Regions from separate parts of the Homo sapiens genome. Here region 2 is linked to region 1. The links come from fine-mapping of genetic effects on gene expression. A gene starts in region 1. The other region holds a variant in brackets. All regions are shown on one strand. Distances are from middle to middle. Region 1 holds the start of HAPSTR1 (HUWE1 associated protein modifying stress responses). Region 2 overlaps HAPSTR1 (HUWE1 associated protein modifying stress responses).

What was found.
Region 2: its variant is fine-mapped to the expression of HAPSTR1 in whole blood (INTERVAL, PIP above 0.99).

Annotation. Positions count from the first base shown.
Region 1 is chr16:9,087,892-9,095,992 of GRCh38, reverse strand. It overlaps HAPSTR1 (HUWE1 associated protein modifying stress responses), which reads right to left and starts at 4,349. Exons shown (of 4, transcript NM_014117.3): 1 at 3,723-4,349; 2 at 2,992-3,072. The coding sequence starts at 3,948. RefSeq lists enhancers at 2,880-3,049, 5,319-6,184 and silencers at 3,200-3,699, 3,910-4,249, 4,420-4,489, 5,278-5,408.
Region 2 is chr16:9,112,824-9,120,924 of GRCh38, reverse strand. It overlaps HAPSTR1 (HUWE1 associated protein modifying stress responses), which reads right to left. Exons shown (of 4, transcript NM_014117.3): 4 at 1-4,257. The coding sequence ends at 4,013. Among named protein-coding and RNA genes, the nearest start is that of HAPSTR1, 25 kb to the right of the region's middle. RefSeq lists a silencer at 5,319-5,613. The variant C/G (reference allele first, on the strand shown) is at 3,487.

The sequences.
Region 1 (8,101 bases):
TACTCCCCTTCTTTAGTTCCAGGAATCAAAAAATATACTGATCTAAGGATACTACTGAATATTGAAGAAACACCATCCTCTTTGCATTTATCAAATCAAAAACCAGCAGTCAGTATTTTGGCTTCCTTCCTTTTTTGGAAAGGGGAAGACAAGTCTGACCCTACTATTTACAGTAGAGGTAACCACCCACTCCATTTTATTGAATTCTGTCCTTGCTGAAGTTCAACTTACATTTACATTATCTTCCAAATCCTTCTAGCCACATTCCAACCAAACCAATTAACTCAATTTTCAACTTTTCAAAAGCCCTCTGACAACTAAAAGCGACCCTCTGCTGGGTTTTTAATCTCAATCCTGACCTTCTTAATGAAGGTCAGGATTGAGATAAACACCTAATGAACTTCTTGGTAGTTATCAAGAAGCTGGTAGGAGTGCCAAATTGTCCCCAGGCTGCACAATAAGCCATTTTTACCTTGTCAGATATTATACAAAATACAGGAATGCTGCCTGCTGCCCACTTAGAAGTATCCACCAAATTTTTCCCCCCTTAAATTATATTTAAATATTTAATCAGAACTATAACCAATATCATTTAAATTTAGTACTACTTACTGCTGCATGCACTTGTGACACCACCTTGCTAATTTTATTGGTTCTATTTAAGGTAACCAATTATTCCTACAGCTGTATGCCTGTTCTCTAAAGACCACACCCTGAAAAAGAAAAAGTGTGAGGCTATCCAGAGTATTATCCACACACTCCTTGAATCAAATAAGAAAACGTTGCACTATCAAATTCCACAAGACACAACTTACCATTTCTATTAGGCAAGGGATGTGTTTTCACTGTACAGAAACAAGGTACAAAATAAAACTAGTTCAGACTAACAATCTAGCATTTACAATAATCCAAGAATCATATGTGATGTTTTCTAAAAATAAAATTAATGTTCCTCCTTAAGTTTTCTGAGCAGGAAAACAAACAAATTGTAAACATTTTTAAATGAAGTAATCAAATTAAGGATTATTTCAGAGTTCAACTGCTGAACCCATCTTCTTACACGAAAAGTTAGCACTAACGAAAACTGCTAGGTTAGTCCTAAAGGGACACATTCTACAAGAACCCAACAGGACCAAAGCCAGAGGACAATCCCATTTTATACGGCCTAGGCTAAGAACCTGGCACATAAAAACACTAAAAATGTGTTGCCTTCCCCTTCAAGCACAAAGCAATACCAACAAAAGCAAAAGAATAAACCATGGTACTGCCACACCATAGAGTAATACTAGCCAATCAAAAGGCACTGAACTATGCACACCTGCAATGCGAACTCGATGGGTGAACCTTATCATAGTAACTGGAACAAGCCAGACACAATAGGCTACAAGGACTGCACCATTCTATTTAGGACATGATGGAGGAGAAAAAACAGCAATCAAATCAGTGACTGCCAGGGACTGGGAGGTGGGGGTGATAGATATATTCTACTTCTTAAAAAAAAAAAATCAAAGTATATATCCTAAAACAGTGATTTTACTGTATGTAAATTACACTCCCAGAAACCTTTTTTTTAATTAAGTATTATTTCAAAATTCTGTTTTTGGACAAAACCAAGAGCCATTCCAAAACGTTCAAGACCGTCAGCACTGATAGATGTTGAAGCAATTTACTCAGTCACAATTTAACAAACAGCTATATAAAATCAAAGCTAACCACTGAGGCACTATTTAACCATGTTTCCCTTTTTTCAGTAAGACTGGACTATTATTATTACAGTTCCTCATTCCCTAAAGTTAGCGTTTCTTTTCACCACTTTGTTACCAGTTCTCAAATTACTGTCCCAAAAAACTGTAGTCTACTCAAGAAATCTCACAAGGAGATATTTTTTCCTACAAGATGCTGCGGCCATTTGCACATTCTTATGCAAAAATTAACAACTTGACAGTCAAGCAGCACCTTCATAGCCCGTTTCAACCTATATATGGCCTAAATATATATGGCAAAAATACCAATATTGGTATTTTTGAAATGCACAAAGTTCCATTACTGTTCTGAGCAACTTTTAAAAGTCTGAAAACATTTAATTACATATTTCTTAAGATTAACAAAGTCAAATCCTTTTTCCATAAAAATCTTGCCAAAAAAAAAAATCAACCCCAAATTTCTCAATCTTCAAAACCAGTAAGGCACAAAATCTAAACCCACCGTTACCAAGAATGCACAAATGGGCAAGAACGTTTACTTACACATCTTCATGTCATCACAAAGGGAGGGGGATTAACTCCAGAAAGGAACCACCATAAAACAAACCTATGGACTCAAAACTCTCAACAGAATTCCTGCCAGCAACTTATAATCAAATATAGGATCCTTTTAACAGAAAACACTTGATCAAATTGCTAGAGAAGAGCAGCACGTTAACATGCGCGCAGATGACTCCGATTAGCAAGCTTTCAAGCACTTCAAAACTATATAGACTGCCACGCTTTCAAATGCCTAACTCAAGAATCTTTTCCATAAAGTTCGTCCCACTTCCGACTGTAGTACAAAAAACATCAACTCTTATCTTCCCTCAATGTCTTTTCCAGAGGGAGGCAAGGCTCAGCCGTCTTCCAGCTCAACGCTTCTCAACCTGAGCACTACTGACTTTAGGGGCATGATAATTCTTCGCTGAGAGGGGGCCGGGGCGGTTATCTTGGGCACTGCAGGACCTTCAGCAGCCTCTATACACTGGGTGCCCAACAACAGCCCCTTCTAGGAGAAGCCAACCAAAAACGTCCCCAGGCGTTGCCATCTGTCCCGGGGGGCGGAGGGAGGTGTCAAAATCGCCTCCGGTGGATCTAGCTAGAGCACCGCCGCGATTCTCAAGTTGCAAGGTATTCAAGGTTAGCAGCTGGGCTGGGGAGCAGAAAACACACTTGGAACGCAGGGCAGACACCCTGACGCAGGCGGCCCTTCCCTGAATCGGCAATGCAGCAAGGTTATCTTTACCTTTGTAGAGATTGGTGACGGCGGTGGCTGCGTTTTGGAAGGGGACCCAGAGAGAAAGTCCTGGCTGCTGACACACTCGGTCTGAAAAGCAAGCCAAAAAAAAAAAAAACCAAAAAGAAAAAAGAAACACACATAGAAAGAGAAAGAAAGAGAACAAGAATGTTATTTGCGCGTCAATCACTCCGGAACGGCCATATTAGGTTTCGCCATTTTGTTCAGGGGTTTCGGGATCCCAAACCCAGTGTGAGGACCGGGGGGGCAGGGAGGTCGCGGCGGGGAAAAGGGGATGCCGCAGAGCTCAGGGGCACAGATCAGGGACGAGCCGCGGCGCAGGGAAGCGCCCCCCCTGGCAGTCCCCGCCCCGAGGCCGGCTCAGGGCACAATGGGGCCGCCCCGCCGTCTCCCTTCGCCATTTTGTGACGGGGGCTCCTCCTCTCCCGTCTCCGGGCCGAGGGGGACACCGGGTGGCCGGGCCCGGAGAGCGGGGACCCTCGGACCACCCCAAAGCGGGGCTACCCCCACGCCGGCTCTGGCCTGTCCCCCCAACCCCGGGCCTCCCTCCCGCGGCGCCATCTTGCGGGGAGGGGGCGGCAGGGCCGCGGAGCCACCGGCCGGGATCCCCGAGGCCGCCGCCGTCGCGGCCCCCCGAAGCGGCCGCTGAGCCGATAGGGCCGGGGCCGGGCCCGGGCGGGGGCGGCCAAGCGGTACCAAGATGGCGGCGGCGGCCTCACCTTTGTAGAGCTGGGCCACGGCGGTGGCCGAGTTCTGGAAGAGGTGCCACAGCTTCTGCTGCTTGTGCTCGGGCTGCGCGGCGGCCGCCGCCTCCTCCTGCAGCTCGGGGGGCAGCTGCTCGTCCTGTTCGGCCTCGGCCAGGCACTGCCGCTCCCACTTGGAGAACCAGTGCTCGGGCCCGTGCTCCTGGATCTCGGCCTCGCCCTCCTCCTTCCGCTCCTCCATCCTCCGCGGCCTCCCGCGGCCTCGCCGCCACCGCCGCCGCGTCCTCCTCAGGCGGGGCCCCCGCGGGAGCGTCGTCGTCAAGCGGCCCGGCGGCAGGGCCTGGCGACCGACGGCGCCTTCTCCTTTCAGCGGCCCAGGCCTCCTGCACCCCGACGGCCGGCGAGCCCCGCCCCGCGGCCCCGTGCAACCAGGGACGACCCCCGCCCCAGGCCTTCCCACCCCCGGGCCCGGCCGAAGGTCGCCGCGGACCAGATAACCGCTGCCGCCCCTCGCCTCGGCCGCCGCAGCCTGTCTAACGCCCCCCCATGGCGCTGCGGCCTCCCCACTGCCGCCGCCGCCGCTGATCGCCGAGCCCTCCGCGCAGCTCGGCCTGCACCGCGGAGCCCACCCCAAGACTGAGCAACGTCGTCGTCGTCGCCACCGCCGAGGACGGCTCTGCGGCTGCTGGTCCCCGCCCTACCCCGCCCACATGCTGACAGGAGAAGCACCGCCCACTGGGCCCAAGCTACCCTGCCCGGTTGAGGCGTGGCCGCTCCAAGGGCCCCTATTAGTCGGATCCGGCCGGTTCCGCGTGGCGGCTTCTGAGCACAGCGTCGTGATTGGTTCTTCGGCCTGTCTGCCTGACGTAACCAATTGGCTGGGGGAAGGGAGTGAATGTCAGGAAGGATGAAGGAGGAGGAGGGGGAGGAGCTGACAGTGGTTGCGTCCGAGCCAAGGGGGCGGGTGGGGGGTGGAGGGGAAGAGCTAGAAGGGATGCGCATGCGCACTTGCTCGCTGCTCCCCCCCCCGCTCAGGGGCGTTGAGTGGGGATCACGTGACGAGGCCCAGCGACCGCACCCCGCGGGAGCTTTTCCGGCGTGTACAGGCCCTGGGGGGATGCAAAGTCGAGTGCGGCTCCTGTGCCGCGGGCACTGAGAGGTATAGTGGGTGGTAGCGTGCTTACTCCAGCCCCTGGGGCTCCCAAAGGGAGGAGGGTAGTAGAGAAAGTGAATAAAACGCCCAACTCGTGTCCAAGTTTGCAAAGCGCTTTCCTATTCTTTTGAGTACTCCCCCTTTTTTTTTTTTTTTTTTGAGACGGGGTCTTGCTACGTTGTCGAGGTCTAGACTGCTGGCCTCAGGCGATCTTCCAGCCTCCCAGGGCGCTGGGATTACAGGCTTGAGCCACCGCGCCCGGCCCAGAGTCCCATTTCTTAGACGGGCAAATCGACCATCACAGCCAAAGAAAAACTTCCGAGTTGCGAAGTCGGCTCAGTTGCCCCTGCGCCCTGGCGTCCCCCGAGGACGTCGCGCCTTCCGGGTGGACAGGACCTCGGCGGCCGCCCGCGGAGCCAAGGATAACCCGACGGCCGACGGTGCCCGGTGCCCGCACGCGTGCGTCTGCGCCTTTGCGCGCGCGGCGGCCCCCGCACCTGTCCCGAAAAGCACACTCCCAGGCCACGTGCATGCCCCGCGTCACGTACCGGCCCCTGCCTTCCCCGGCCCGAACCCGCGTGGCGGTGCCGAGCGCTGCGCCCGCCCCTACTCCCCCCGCAGTGCGCGATAGCTGGACGCCCCTGCGGCTGCGCGCCCCCCTCCCCTGTCGGGGCTTTCTCCAGGGTCTGAGGCCCCGGAGAAGGCAGCAACGCAGACAGGCGGTGACCGCACAGAGGCAAAACCCACCATCCCCACCTACATGCCCACGGGAGGCACCATCCGGCCTGGAGCGGCGGAGGGCGCCGGCCAGAGGCAGCGTCGCCCGCAGCCTGCGATAGTGCGCTTGCACAGAGCAAGGCGGCTTTGGAAGAAAATCTGACCCCCTCACCGCGGCCTGCAAACCCCTGCAGGATCTGGCCCTGGCGCCTCTCACACAATCCCCTACTTGGCTTGTACCTTGCGCACTCCCCCTCTTCCCCACCTCGCCTGGACGCTCACACACTGGCCTGCCTTATTTCCCTGGGACACTAGGCTCTTTCCTGCCCCAGTCTGCTATCTCTGGAAGCTCTTCCTCCTCCTCTTTCCTCAGATAGCTCCTGTTTAGGAAGCCTACTAGGACAAGCCTAAAGTAGCACCCTTCACACTGTCTCGTATTGCCTGGTTATATTATTTCATAACATCAATCACTATCTAAAATGCTAAATTAGGCCTGGCGCGGTGGCTAAAAAACAGGTTTCCAATTGTAGGGAAGAATATAAAGTGAAAAGCAAACAAAAATCATTCTACCTACCTCATTCTACATCCTCCCAATCCTATTCCCAGGAAATAACTTGTGACCTTTGAAAACGGAGTTATGTGTACGTCGAGTGTGTATGTGTGTGTGTACCTATATACAAGTATGTCCCTTCTTAAGGAAAAAAAAAGATGATTTTATGTGTACTATCCTACAAGCCTTTTTTCCTTAACATAATTTGGATGTCTCCACATTGGGACCTAAAGACTTATTTATTCTTTTAAAATATTGCAAATAATTTCATTGTATGGATTCACTACAAAGTATTTTACAGGGCCCCTATTGATACAAATTTAGATTGTGACCAGTCTTTGGCTATTATAAACAATGCCATAATGAACATCTTGTACATATGTAATACAGTGAACATCCTTGCATATATACATATGTGTATTGAATATATATCCTCAGAAATAGTATTTTAGAGTCACAAGGTATATGAGTTAAATATTTTAGGAGGGTAGGCATGGTAGCTTACACCTATAATCTCAACAATTTAGGAGGCCAAGACGCAAGGATTGCTTGAACTCAAGAGTTCAAGACCAGCCTAGGCGACATAGTGAAACCCAGTCTCTACAAAAAAATACAAAACACAGCCAGGCATGGCGGCACACACGTGTAGTTCCAGCTACTCAGGAGGCTGAGGCGGGAGGATTGCTTGAGCCCAGAAGGCATAGGTTGCAGTGAGCCGAGATAGTGCCACTACACTCCAGCCTGGGTGACAGAGACCCCATCTCAATCAATCAATCAATCAATAAAACTGCCTGCTGAGTGTACGATCAATGGTTGTTGATATGTCAATTTCTACATTTCTGCATTCATGGTAGCACGTGGGAAGTCCAGGCCTGCACATGTAGGTATGACAAAGGAGAGAACACAGCTGGACGATTTCGCTGCCTGCAGGCTCCGCTTCAAAAGCCACACACCACTTTGGACAGTCCAAAGGTTTCGAGTTTTTACAGAATGAAGGCTGCTCTTCTTCTCCTTCATGTAACTCAGACCCTGTTCCAGAAGCCTCTGGCCTTTTCTTGTAAGAACATAATATTTCAGCCATACATACAAGATGGAATGATATTGAATAGCATAAACGCTGGCTCTATAATAAATATTTGTCAGTTGGAAAAAACAGTCTAAAGAAAAAGGAATAAATATTGAAAAGCACCACCTATCTGCTTGATTTCCATGACCCTGAGCTTTGTGTTAACCTCTAAGAGTTTCTTTTTTGTTGTTGTTTCGAGACGAAATCTCGCTCTGTCGCCCAGGCTGGAGTGCAGTGGCGTGATCTCAGCTCACTGCAACTTCTGCCTCCTGGGTACAAGCCATTCTCCTGCCTCAGCCTTCCTAGTAGCTGGGATCAGAGGTGTGCACCAGCATGCCCAGATAATTTTTTGTGTTTTTTGTAGAGATAGTTTTGCAATGTTGCCCAGATTGGTCTCCAATTCTTGGGCTTAAGCAGTTCTCCCACCTCAGCCTCCCAGGTAGCTGGGACTACAGGCACATGCTACCATGCCTGGCTAAATGTATTTTTTGTAAAGATGGGGTTTTGCAGTGTTGCCCAGGCTGGTTTCCAACTCCTGGACTCAAGCAATCCTCCTGCCTCAGCCTCCCAAAGTGCTGGAATTATAGGTGTGAACTACTGCACCCAACCCACCTCGAAAAGTTTCTGAATTCTGAATTGATAGTCTTAGAGCACTTGAGCTATTATACAAATGCTTATTATCTTCTTATTCATGTGTACCTTATAATCAATGCCACTTGGAATGGAGGAATGTCAAATAACAATGCACGATACGTATTATGACCAGCAGTCAGCAAATAGAAGACCTTGTCAATGTGGAGATTCTCTCCAATGCCACCTACTCTTCAGTTTAAAGATGAAACCTCATAAGCCGGGAGCGGTGACTCATGCCTGTAATCCCAGCACTTTTGGGAGGCCAAGGCAGGCAG
Region 2 (8,101 bases), 25 kb before region 1:
GCTTATCTGTACAAGGGAATACTATTCTGTCACAAGATTTCACCATATTTGAAACCCCGTATCTAACAAAAATACAAAAAATAGCCAGGTGTGGTGGCAGGCACCTGTAATACCAGCTACTCGGGAGGCTGAGGCATGAAAATTGCTTGAACCCAGGAGGCAGAGGTTGTGGTGAGCCAAGATCGTGCCACTGCACTCCAGCCTGGGTGAGAGAGTGAAACTCCATCACAAAAAAAAAAAAAAAAAAAAAAGATTTCACCATATTACTTCTAATGTATAAAAGACCTGTATATACTATAAGCTGCTGTGTGGCTTGATTTTTGCTGTTTTAAATCTTTTTTTTAAGCACTAAATAAAAAAAAAATGAGGGGCCATCGAAAACTTGACTTGCTACGTCACAGGCTACTGTCTAACTGAACTTCACAAGGAGCCTGCAGATCCCATTATAGGAAGTAAAACCCTGGATATCTCATCCCATCAAACCCAACAGCACAACACACGGTCTGACAGCCAGCCTGGGTGCTCGGGCCTGCTCGTCTCTCAAATGCTGCCCCCACTAAAACATCACACACCTCAAATATTCCAAAGGGAGGCTAGAAGCTGGCCTTATGGGGTAAGGTCATCTAAACCATCAAAGCCGACAACTTTCCAGAAGGGGTAGCAGGTACCATAAACACTTATAACTTTAAACAAGGGGTTGCTCTGGAAGAACCTTTCTAGTCACTTTATTCCACAAATCCAGAATGTATCTCTGAAGATTCCCATCCTCACCATGACTAAATACCTCAGTCACCAATCTAATGAATGAAGCACCAGGTTACAACATACTACATAAAGTAAAATGCAATGAGATTAATCTGCTGACGTAGTCACCACTAGAGGTAGTAGCCAGGCCAAAAACTCAATCATTCTGTTCATAATTTTCTAAACTTATGGCCCCATTTCAAAATCATCTCTTGGCGTCTTGCACTGGCCTCTGAGGCTGACTAGCCCTCTGGGTTGGATGTTGGCCATCCCTCTCACTATAAAGGAAGTTAGCCAGTTTTCACTGTTGAATGGAAATCTTCAGGCCCAAAGCCACAATTATTCGAGTTTAATGAGTTCCAGTAGCCCTTAGAAAAAAACATTTAGAAAGCTAATTCTTTTTTAAAAGCCTAAACTTCATTTGATTGCATCAAAAAGTTATTCAGATGTGATGACCAAAACAAAACTGCAGACAAGCCCCATGGTTTTTTTGTTTTTATTCATTTTATGATTAAGGTGTTTATCACTACTCCAGTTGGGTAAACCACATTGAAGAATCTGACTGCAGGTCTTTAGATTCAGCCAAATGCTTTCCAACAATTTTGCTCTAAAAAATATTAAACATTTTAATACTTCAGCCATGCTCAGAACGCTGCAGTCTAAGGATGAACTTCAACTTGCCCATGCCAAGTTAGGGCGACAGGAGCAGAACTAAGGAGCTATGACGTCTAAAAGAATCAGAGAATCTGGCTTAAGACGAAGAGAGCTTCTGTTCCCCAAAACTAAACTGTCTAGTTTTTAAATCCACCCTTAACCGTTCAAGAAACTGAAAAAGTCAACTTGTTTTTAAAATACCACACAGGTATGCAATCTTCCATGATTTGTTTTGCATCTCAGCTAGCACAGGGAAACCCTTGAAAAACCTAGCTGTCAGAAGTTTTTCCTGAGGGAAATCATTACGCTTCTACTGCTGAGCTTCATGTTTATTCTGTGCGTCGGGGAAAGGAGAAAGCAATGGGACAGAGAAGGGAAAAGTTGCGACTGGGTGACAAATTCATTAGGTGCATTTGAAAGTAAACGCAATGGAAAAAAGTAACAAATGCTAAAGTTTTCTAAAAGTTTAATGAAGCCAATAAGGCATATAAATTGTGTTCTGGCAGACATTAAGACCTGCTTTCTCTTACCAAAGAAAATGGCACGTTTTATCAAAATTTGACAATTCAGAGTAAAGGGTACTGAGATTAAGCTTCAGAGCACCAACTTAAACAAAACAACCAAAAAATTGTTATCCAACGTGGAAAGAGGAGCAAGAACCAAGGCATAAAGGGGAATTAAATATGTGTTCCTCCATCTCAAAATCCTTTTAGGAATAGGAGTTCTGGCCACTTGTGAGCAACACATTGCACCACCAAACCCCAATTCCAGAATCTAAATTTACGATAGAAAAACAAAGGTAACTCCAAACGCATGTCTTGTATATTCCAAAGGGAAGCTTGAAAGTATTCATAATACATAGGCTTGTCTGTTTCAGGTAAAATGACAGATTGCTATAATTCTTCCTGCTATTATAGTCAAACAAAAAATGACCCACTTTCGCAAAAGTTTAGAAATCTCTCACTTTCATTCCTAGTTTTAGTATGGAATTCACTTTTTTAAATAAGGGCTACATCTATAATGAATACAGAACTTCAATTCACACAACATTTCTAACATTCCATTCACATCCCACCCAGTCAATGAATGAACATTTATGGTTAACTCAGCAAAGTTTCTTCACAGAAAGATATTATTAAATGGCTGAAGAAATTGCAAACTTTAACAAAGTGCTGTGAGTAATTACTGGAAAAACCCTTACACTGATTTGCAATGGTCTTTTAAGGATAAAAATAGGAAGTAACTGATACTGGACTACAAGTTTGCAAGGAAACATTTTTCACTGTCCTACTTGATATATAATATAATAATATGATAGAATAAATTACAGTACCTGGCAGGCTGACATCAGTTCTTCATCTAAAAAAACACTATCATTCAGTTCAGGATATTAAAAATGAAGATGAAACATGCTCTAAAACATTGTAGCTACAAGAGGTCTTATATTTACTCAAAAGAGGAATCTATTGAGAACTTTTTATTTAGGTCTACCTAACAGCTAGAGAATCTCCATGCGATTCCATCTTTTCCAGAATGAGATTCCAAACTGAACTTTTTAGGAGAGGGATTGGAGGGACAGGGAGAGTTGGGTTTTGCTATTTTAAGTTGCAATCACATTATTAGTAGATAAAAAAGAGAGCTTTATCATCTTCCACCCATTCCAATGGAAACTGCACTAAGCAGGGACTCCATGAAAAATGTAAAATGATAGACTAGAAAACCTACCCCACCATCCATCTCCCTCTCCCTCTCACTAATACTGAACCAAAAAGGAAGCCCATTCTCAAAGTTCATGACCTCTCTACTTTAGGTCACCTCGAATGCAGTCTACATGTTTACATTTACCATAAGGAAAGTACCCCGCATGGGAAGTAGTGTTTGTCTTAAAACTGAGTACTTTAGGCCTACAGGGTTACTCTGGGGACAGTTTAATAATAATACTGCTACTTTAGAGCACTAACACACACAAAGTGAATCCAATAAAGCTCTGGGCATTGATTCAATATTTAGTATTAATTGCATGACCATCATAGCACCTCTTTACATCACACAATCACCAGAATTAGAAATTGATTTGAAAACTAAAAA[C/G]AGGGCACAGTCCAATAATTAGAATTGCACACTGTTACTATATAGAAACCAGGTGCATGGTACAGTGCAGCTGCAAAAATGGAAGCCAAATCATGTTTTTAGACAATTTTAGGAACCTGGCAATACTGTTGAAGCAAAATACTCAACACAGCAGGAAATGGACCCAAAAAAAAAAAAAGCATTCTATAACCAAATAAACATCTGATATTTCCTTTCCCTTTGAGAATAAATACAGTTAAGGTCACTTTTAGCCTTGGAACGGATATATGTTTGCCTATGATGATCTTGCTAACGACTACACAATATCTGATGTCCTCTGCTAGGATTATAGTTTTAAGAAAGCCATAATTACAAGAGGCATCTACTATAAATACCTAGAACTTCCTTTTATGGCAACCACTATAGAATTCACTTGTCTTAAACAGTGAACAAGGGAAGATGGCCTCATGTTTCCTTTGCAATTATAGTATATGTTGAGGATCAAGTGGCTTTCAAGCAGCATGGTGGGTGTGAAAATGTTTGCAGTTTAGATCATTCTGTTGCGTTTATGGGTTGGTGAGTCTGTAATGACATCGCCACACTGGGCTGAGGTACGCTTTCTAGTTCCACCATTGTCCAAGTGGAGTGCCATTTCTTCTGATATGAAAGTGTTCAAATCGACATCATGGAGTCCATTTCTCCTTCGACTAGCATTCGATCCACTGCTTACATGTGTAGGAGAGCCTGGGGTACTCGAACGCACGCTTATACTAGCCATTGCACCACTAAGACCTAGGAAGAAGAAAAAAGGTTTTAGAGTTGCTCAATTATGTAACCCTTTTGAAAGCAACCCACTTACTTTCCATGTTGTCACAATGTCAAAGCATGTCTGCCTATTTCCTTTATAAGGGATTACTAGTAAGCAATTAAGTTTTATTCTGGATAAACATATCATCTGGCCTTGACATATATTTTATTGGTAATACTACCAATATCTACAATATTGGTAACTACCAATTACTAAAAGTTACTACGTGTCAACCACCGTGCTAGGTGTACAAATATCTCATTAAATTCTCCCATCTATGAGGTAGGTACTGCACAAAATTTACAGATAAGGACAGGAGACATTTGCTTTAAAGACAAGACATTTTTGGTTACCCAAAGTTACCATTCCAACAGACCCCTCTGATGAGTGTGTATGTGTGTGATGTATTCAGGAGAGCCAGAAATCACTTCCAGGCCTAGGTGGGCTTGTTCCAACATCCCCTCTAGATAAGGTGATCACATAACTTGCCATCCAAAACAGATTACTGTTGAGCCCGAAAAGAGTCACTGTTAAAATTTCTACTGGGACATGAGGTACAAAGTCAGTCTACCCTGGACAAATCAGGCTATGTGATCACCTAAGGTCTGGAATGTATTTGGTAGATATCCTTCAGGACAGCCTCAATCATGAGCCTCTCTAATCCTTCATGGAAGTGGGGAGGGGAGAGGGTTGTGAAGAATCCTGCTGCTTTGTTTTCAACATTAAGAGTTACTGAATCCAAGGCCAGGCGCAGTGGCTCACACCTGTAATCCCAGCACTTTGGGAGGCCGGGCAGATCTCTTCAGGTCAGGAGTTCATGACCAGCCTGGCCAACATGGTGAAAACTCGTCTCTACTAAAAAATACAAAAATTAGCCCGGCGTGGTGGCAGGCGCCTGTAATCCCAGCTACTCGGGAGGCTAAGGAGGAGAATCGCTTGAACCCGGGAGGCGGTGGTTGCAAAGAACCGAGACTGCACTCCATCCTGGGTGACAAGAGCGAAACTCCGTCTCAAAAACAAAAGAGTTACTTTACTGAATCCAGAATATACCCAGCACTCATGGATACTTATTCCTTTCCTTAAACTCTTACACAGTTAAAGAGCCAAACTTACATTCCACTCCTAAACATTCAGGATAAACCTGTGAAAGGTATGAGTCAGGCCAGGAAACACCAAACACAGTGTTGCATTTTTAAAAACCTACCGTCACTGGCAGTGATCTTCTGCCTTAGGAATTTCCCCTTCCACTATTCTCTCCTCACCTAGGGATCTGTTATTGCTTGACTATCAATTAATTTTCAAAGAATAGGACTTATAAGATTTTCAAGTAAGCTTAGAGGTTTCATTTGACAGGGGCCCATTCTTTCTAATCATGAACTCCCTAAAAATGTAGTTTAAATTTGAATTTTAAGTTGAAAAGTCTCTGCCTCCTATCACAAATCTATTACATTCCCCTTGGCGTTCCCCTCCATCAAATATTCTCTGAAATGTTCTCAAATCCATGGCCTCCACTATCATCGCACATGCTGACAATGTCCTGAGGGCCACACCTCCCTTCTGAGGTGCTCAACTCCGCACTCTAGGTGCCCCCATTCCTTTCTGCACTGATCCAACCAATCCCCCTGGCTGCTCTCCCTGCAGAAGACACATCCTCCCCTCCTGCTGGTGGTCAGAGGAAATCAAACTGTCCCTCTTCAGCCTCTCAACCTTTCCAAGGCTAGCACCTATTAAAAAATAGAAGCATTAACATGAGAATACTTCCTGTGTCAGGTACTATGTCAATTACTTCCTATGACACCTATAATATCTCCATTCTGCAGGTGAAAACCCAAGTTTAAAAGTTAATTCATCCAAGGTCAACAGGTAGTAAACAAGAGCTGGCACTCCCACCCAAGTGTAATCTATATTCCTATTCAGTTATTCTGATCCTCTTCCAAGCCTAGAGTATTTTAGCAAAAAGGTGGCTTCAGGTTGGTCCTAGGGCCAGCCTGCCTCTTAGGCCTCATCTCTTTGAACAGTTTCTCTCTCTTCCCTTCCTGCTCTCTTCACTTCACCCTTAGACCGTATCCCGACTACCAACATCATGCAATTTGCAGCTCTCTGAAATAGTGAGGCCTGCAACTATCTGTCTCTTCCAACATTTGCAAATGTCTGTCTCTCCCAACATTCACTCCCTGAGTGAGCCCACCTGTTCCCCAGCACCTCCCTTATGAGGCTCCTTCCCTGGTTCTCCTACCTCTCCATTTTAGTTTCCTGCTGGCTCCTCTTTCCCCCTCCTTGAAATTGAAACTCTCCGCTCACTCCTCAGTCGCCTTGGTGGGGTTCCCTTCTGCCCCTGAAAGGCTGGTGTCACCCTGGGTGATATCCTCAACCCCTACCTTACCCACACACGTTTCCCAAAACTAGACTAATGAGCTCAACGGCCCTCCCAGATTTCTAACTGCCTACTGGACATCTCAAACTCAACACCATCAAAAAGGAACTTCACTTCCTCTTCCCCAACCGGCACAAGCTTACTTTTAAAAAACAAAATAAACCAAAAAAAAATCTTGAGCTATCTTTCTACAGCATGGTACAATCAACCGTCTCTTCCTATAGAAAATATCTTTTCATCTCCATCTAATGACCTAAGCACAGTGCCTGGCACTTACGAATTCTGAAAAAGAATAATACTTCAAAGTCCTACCCCCTCATGTTGAAATCCACTGAAATCAAAGGTTCAACTGTTGATGTTTATTCACCTCTCCAACACCAGAAAATAAACCCAGGTGTTCTCTTCACTTAAATCATTGCCATCAAGTTTAAAACTCAATTATCCCCATTGTTGGCTTTTTTTTAAAGTTCTACCGCAAGACTAAACTTGAGGGGAGAGATGTGCCTTCTTTCATCCTAGTGTCTCAGCCTGTAACATATTACAAGGTGCCCATGTTCTTCAAAGATAACCTTTCGTACTTGTTTCATAATCCAAAAGGTAATTATTATGGCAAAATATGGGCACGTTCAGCAATAAACTGGGCTACTTCAATAATTAAAATCAAGATCCCCTTTATCATTTCAAATTATAAAAAGAATTCAACAAACCCCACCCTAATGCCCTTGTTAACATAGGAGTCTCATGGCAGCACGTTTAATACCTAACAACAAATATGGAAGGCTCAAAACACTGTATCAGAAGTGGACTAGGGATTTCAAGCAAATGTTCCTTATTGTTTCAGCTGCCATTCTCCATGAAAAAGAAGATGTGTTAAACATCAATTTGGTCAATCTGAAAATTCTAACAGCTTCTGGGAAATCATCTTTTTCTACTGGGTGTATGACCTGGGTGTTTATCTTGATAACTTTAATGTGCAATATGATCTATGACTGACTCTCATAGCAGTGAAAATATTTTCAAAGTCTGCCTACCTAATCTTCCCCAAAAAGACTTTTCACAAGGGTCAAAAATAATTAAGATTAACAACCAAAAAATGTGCATTTTGACAGCCCAAATTTTATTTTACAAACCAATGACAGCTACTAGAAGATGCTTTAGGAAACCTTAGCTAAGCCACATAAACAATCAGACCTATACAAGTACAGAAAAATCTAAACATGCTTCAGAACTAAAAAAAAAACAAAAAAAAACAAAAAAAACAAAAAAAAAAAACCAAGTTGTACGTCCTGAGGGCATACAACTTAATTTCTACAAAAACATACTTTTTCAAAAGGGCTATGAGAGTATCAATTGACAAAAGCAGAACAAGTAGCATGATTAGACAGAGAAGTCTTAATTGCTTAACACAAGATAAACTCAGCAGTTTTAAAGTGTCTGTATCCATTTTAAATGAT